2 separate regions of the Homo sapiens genome follow, and region 2 is linked to region 1. The links come from fine-mapping of genetic effects on gene expression. A gene starts in region 1. The other region holds a variant in brackets. All regions are shown on one strand. Distances are between the middles of the regions. Region 1 holds the start of MPG (N-methylpurine DNA glycosylase). Region 2 overlaps RAB11FIP3 (RAB11 family interacting protein 3).

What was found. PIP is the estimated chance that this variant, and not a neighbour inherited with it, causes the effect.
Region 2: its variant is the best candidate, but not a certain one, in a credible set for the expression of MPG in monocytes (TOPMed, PIP 0.80).

The regions. Positions count from the first base shown.
Region 1 is chr16:76,744-79,642 of GRCh38, reverse strand. MPG (N-methylpurine DNA glycosylase) reads right to left here and starts at 1,418. Exons shown (of 4, transcript NM_001015052.3): 1 at 1,310-1,418; 2 at 1-218. The coding sequence starts at 1,333. RefSeq lists an enhancer at 1,339-1,633 and a silencer at 1,148-1,837.
Region 2 is chr16:499,618-502,516 of GRCh38, reverse strand. The region is part of intron 6 of RAB11FIP3 (RAB11 family interacting protein 3); the gene reads right to left. Among named protein-coding and RNA genes, the nearest start is that of LINC00235, 26 kb to the left of the region's middle. The variant A/G (reference allele first, on the strand shown) is at 1,727.

The sequences.
Region 1 (2,899 bases):
AGTCGGGTAAGGTGGCCCTTTGGGCTTGAGAAATAGATGCTGCGGTATGGGCCCGGAGTGGTGGGCGGTCCCAAGCAGCGCTCCCTGGGGCAAGGTGCCTGGGCTGCATCGGACGAGCTGTGTGGCTGCTCTGCAGGTGCCTGGGCTGCGTCGGACGAGCTGTGTGGCTGCCCTGCTCTAGCTGGTCGCTGCTTCTTTTGCCCCATCCGTCGGCAAAACTGTAATGGGAAAAAAAATAAATAAGCATCCGAATAGGAGACAGCTGTGTGGTAAGGTCAGGCTCAGGAAGTGCAAGGACTGGATCTGACCACCTGCTTTGGTTTCTTCATCTGCAAAGCGGGGGTGACCATCCTGTGGGTTGTTATGAGGCACAAACACCCTGACACACTCGAGGCCTCAGGAAATGATCACGTCTGACGATGGACGGCTGCTGCTGGGGGCAGGGTGGCTGCTCTGCCCCACATATGTGCGAGCTGCACGGCATGGGGGCCCAGGCTGCATGACCTGGGGAGCAGATGGGGGCCTGAGCCTGGGACAGCAGGGCTGGTGCCCTCCGATTCCCACTCATCATGCAGGTCCCAAGCAAACGTCTGAGCTGGTTTCTGGAGCCCTGCCCTTTCATCCAACCCTTGCCAGAATTCAAAACACAGGATCTTAGCAGGGCCAAGGTCGGACACACAGGGAGGGGTGAGCACCGGGGTGACCACCGCGTGCTCAGGGTCCCTAACTGTCCTCTGCTTCATGGCCCAGGCTGGATAACGAGCAAGTGGGGCAAAGGCAAGGTCTCCTGAGGGACTAGGAGGGTCTGCTGAGACCGAGCAGGCCGCCAGCCTCCCACCTCTGGCCTCCCCATGGGTAGGGGGAACCTAACCACACATCCTCGGCTGTCCTGGGGCAAAGGAGAAGGGAAGATGAAGGTGGCGGGTGAGCGCCGGCCTGGCAGCACCCGGAGGGCTGGTCTTTAGCAGCACCTAAGTCCTCCTGGCATGGGAGAGATGCATTATTTTTAACGGGAGTGCTGACGTTAATGTAGAACGGAGACTGCCAGTCGGCCTGGAACGGACGCTGACGTGACCGTCTCCGCAGCTCGGCCCGCGCTGCCAGCGCGCCGTGGGTTCAGCCCCCGGGCGCTGCGGCCACTGCTCTCGGCCCGAGCTTGGCCCTTGGCCTATGCTCTGGCTCTGCCCCGAACCCTCGGGGCGGTGGGCGCTACGCCCGTCCCCGGCACTCCCGCTCCCGCGGCCGCGCTCGCTGCTGCGCCTGGGGGTGGGCGCGTCTGTTCCGCGGGGCGGCCGAGGCGCGCGCTCACCTGGGCCCCGCTGCGCGCGGGCATCCGGCGGCTCGGGCCGGGGCTTCGTGGGACTCGGACCCCGGCGCGGAGCCCAGCAGCCGCCGACCACGGAAGCACCCCTAGGACCGGGGCGGAGCGGCGCCTGCGCAGAAGGGGACGGAAGCCGGGAGAAGGGGGGCAGTGAGCGCCGGGAACTGGCTGCGCCCCCGGGGCGGGGCGGGCCACGTGGAGGTGGATCCTCTTCCCAGCGCCCACCGCCAGGTCCGGACCGATTCCCGGGCCCGATGCGGTGCCTGCGAGGCGAGAGCGGGGAAGGGGCACCTGGGGGTGGGGCGAGCCCCGCACTGTGCCCCGGCGCCCCTCCCAATGAGCTGTCCGCCCCCGCCTGCGCCCTGGTCGCCTGGCGGCCCCAGAGCCCACTCCACCAGCCGGTGGTCAGACCACCGAGAGGACGGGCCCGTCGTGAACCTGAGTGGATCCTCGAGGGGCCCGGGCGGAGTGGTCGTGCTTTGGGGGAGGGGGCGGGCCGCAGACGTGTTTTCCGGTGGGGTGCCAGCGGAGTGAGCGCCTGGGAGGCCGCCCCAGCCCTGGTCCGGAGTGGGCCGGGGAGTCCTTATCCAGGAAGTGGACGCCAGGCTTGTGCGGAGGCCCCCGCCCCTGGCCGGGGTTGTCACAGGCTGGTCGGGGGAAGGAAGGAGGGAGCGGCGCGGATTCTGCCTCTGCAGCAGAGCCCCCATCCCTCTTTCCGCCCAGGGATGCTGAAGGGAGCTCGCCCACGTTCTGGGTTGGGCCTGCTGGAGCGCAGGCAGCCTCCTCTAGAGGCCGAGGCCAGACCAGGGCTGAACACGGCCCGGCAGTGCGCAGCCGTCCTACGCTTCTGAGGCCTCCCCGACGGCCCAGCGCCTGTAAGCTCTCACAACCTCTCAAGTCAGATCCATGCCCCTAGGGAGGGGCAGGGACGGTGCTTGGCCCAGTGGACGGAAGGGCCTAGGGGACGGGCCCTGAGGGAGCTGGGCACACTGCTGGCTCCCACGGCCCATGGCAGCCCCAGCACCCAGCAGAGCCATCCCCCGCTTCTGGCCACTTGAAGGTTTATCTGGGTCTGCAGGGCCCCTCCACTGTGGCAGGCACAATCCCACCCCACAACCCACCTCTGCCGCACAAAAACCCTCGAGGGGCTTTTCCTGAGCTTTGACTTCTGTGACCCTGGTCCTGGAAAGGAGCACCTGAAAAGGCCTTGAAGAGCAACTGGGCACCTGGCCGCGTCAGGTGGGAGACGCTGGGCAGGACAGACGCACAGGCCATGTGTCTGGAGCCCTCAGATGAGTGTGACACCTGGTCCTACAGAAAGGCTAACAGGGCAGGACCTGGTCTCCAACTGCCTCTCCTCCTCTGACCAGCCGTCCCACCCCCATGGGCCCCAGCCAGGACTTCCTGGGGAGGGAGGGGCCATCAGCCGGCTGGAAGCCACCAGCTGTTTGTAGCACTGTGTGCCGCTTCCCGGGGTGGGGGCATAATGTGTCATCAATCCGTGTTTATAAAGCAGCCCTGGATGTGATTCCACACCCTCCCTGCTTATCTGCAGCCATGCCTCCCAAACAATGAGTC
Region 2 (2,899 bases), 420 kb before region 1:
GAAAGGTGTGGATCCCAGAAGTCTCACTCAGTGTCACCCTCACGGACACACTGGGAAACTGGTCCGACCGAGTCCAGGAAGACAGCAGACACACGTGTCCTCTGTGGCACCAGCTCCTGTGGACACGCCCCCAGCACCGCAGGCCATGCCAGTTACTACCCGGGCCAGGCTCGGGGACACAGCCTCATGGTCCTGAGTAGACGCAAAGGCCCATAGGCTGCGGCCTTGGGGCAGGAGCTTCTCCAGGGAGTGTGAACTTAGGCGCGCAGTAAGCGCGTGCTTGTGGTCACCACGTGGTCAGATTCGCTGTGGTGAATCTGTACCAACCCAAACTTGCCGGGAGTACAGAAAACTCTCAGAGCACTCGCACAGAAGAGCCAACAGCAAAGGTGCGTGTTCAGTTCTTTATACATCCTGGGAACCTCAGTACCAAGCCAGGCTCCAGGCTGACAGCCTGATGCTCAGAACTGCGTGACCGTTAAAAAGCACTGGCCCTCTCCGAGCTTCCTTGCCTATGAAATGGGGGGACCCTCTCCCAGCCTCCTTGCCTATGAAATGGGGGGACCCTCTCCCAGCCTCCTTGCCTATGAAATGGGGGGACACTCTCCCAGACTCCTTGCCTATAAAATGGGGGGACCATCTCCCAGCTTCCTTGCCTATGAAATGGGGGATCCTCTCCGAACTTCCTTGTCTGTGAAATGGGGGGACCCTCTCTGAACTTCCTTGCCTGTGAAATGGGGGGACCCTCTCCCAGCTTCCTTGCCTATGAAATGGGGGACCTTCTCCGAACTTGTCTGTGAAATGGGGGGACCCTCTCCCAGCTTCCCTGCCTATGAAATGGGGGGAGCCTCTCTGAACTTGTCTGTGAAATGGGGGGACCCTCTCCCAGCTTCCTTGCCTGTGAAATGGGGGGACCCTCTCCCAGCTTCCTTGCCTATGAAATGGGGGACCCTCTCCCAGCTTCCTTGCCTGTGAAATGGGGGACCCTCTCCGAGCTTCCTTGCCTATGAAATGGGGGGACCCTCTCCCAGCTTCCTTGCCTATGAAATGGGGGGATCCTCTCCGAGCTTCCTTGCCTATGAAATGGGGGGACCCTCTCCCAGCTTCCTTGCCTATGAAATGGGAGACCCTCTCCGAGCTTCCTTGCCTATGAAATGGGGGGACCCTCTCCGAGTTTCCTTGCCTATGAAATGGGGGGACCCTCTCCCAGCTTCCTTGCCTATGAAATGGGGGTCTAGAGGCAACTGAGGTTTAACCAAGGTCATGCATACAAACAGCTTGGCTAGGGACGTAGCAGAGTAAGAATTCCATAAAATGTTAATATTTTTCCACTGAAAATGTCTACCAAGTGTATGAAGTTCGATTTGCTTCTCAGTACGGACTGGGCTTGAACATTTCCATCTTTTTCCCCATAAACGCTCTGAGGAGACAAGCCCTGTGAACGTGCACCAGCTGGAACACACCGGTGCCCTTCTGGGGCTCTGGGGATTTCATCAGATTCTCAAAAGCTGCTGCTGATACAGATCATGTTCTTGGCCAGTCGCTGCTCTTAAACGCCCATGACCTTGCCCCCAAACATGAGCCACTCCAGGCATGAAGCTGCAACCCAGAGCCCATCCTGAGAGGCCACGACCTGTCAGCACTTCTGAGCTGTCCTAGAGGCGTAGGCACTTCTGGGGCTGACTCGGGGACACAGCCATCCCCAGGCACCCAGCGTGCAGCCACC[A/G]CACGTGGCCACCAACGTGAGGCAGAGGGTCCTCAGCATGGGTCATGCGGCTGCTTATTTATTTACTTATTTAATTTTTTTTTTTTTTTTTTTTTTTTTTTTTGCGACAGAGTCTTGCACTGTCACCTGGGCTGGAGTGCAGTGGTGCAATCTCAGCTCACTGCAACCTCTGCCTTCCGGGTTCAAGCCATTCTCCTGCCTCAGCCTCCCAGGTAGCTGGGATTACAGGCACCTGCCACCATGCCCAGCTAACTTTTTGTATTGTTTTTTTTAGTAGAGATGGGGTTTCACTATGTTGGCCAGGCTGGTCTCAAACTCCTGACCTCGTGATCTGTGCGCCTCGGCCCCCCAAAGTGCTGGGAGTACAGGCGTGAACCACCGCGTCCGGCTGGGGCTGCTTATTTAAATCCCCTAGAAAGAGGGATTCTCCAGCTACACCACACCCTCACTTGGAAGGACCCTCCTCCCAGAGAGGGAGCTGTGGAAAAAGCCTGACCTGCCCCACAGGGCAGTAGGTCGAGCCTGGCTGGTGAGCAAGGAGGTACGGGGATCCCTGAGGCCTCCCACCCAGGGCCCAGGGAGCCTGCCTGCTGTGAGCACTTCCTCCAGTCCTGATGGACTCGGCTCTGCCCGGAGCCCCCGGTCTCTGCACACACAGCTGACTGGAGAAAGCCACTTCCATCTCATGGACAGGGACAGAACAAGGCTGAGGGAGGTGAGCAATGCAGCCAGGCCCGGGGGCTACAATGGCTGCTGGCAAAACCCACCATCTCAGCAATAGTTCAGCGCGAAGGGCTGAGAACTGTGAGAAGCGAATCGCGACGTTTATTTTGCTCTTCCTTAGCCTCTTGTGGCAGATTTGGGGCAAAACAACAGATTAAATCTTGTGTACATATATTTACATGTGGATAGACACACTGCAGAAGAGGTCTCTGTTTTGTAAACTCTAACGACAGATAACTGCAGATGGAGCTTTTTTTTTTTTTTTTTTTTTTGAGACAGTCTTGCTCTGTCGCCCAGGCTAGAGTGCAGTGGCGTGATCTGGGCTCACTGTAACCTCTGCCTTCTGGGTTCAAGCAGTTCTCCTACCTCAGGCTCCTGAGTAGCTGGGATTACAGGCATGTGTGCCACCATGCCTAACTAATTTTTGTATTTTTAGTAGAGACGGGGTTT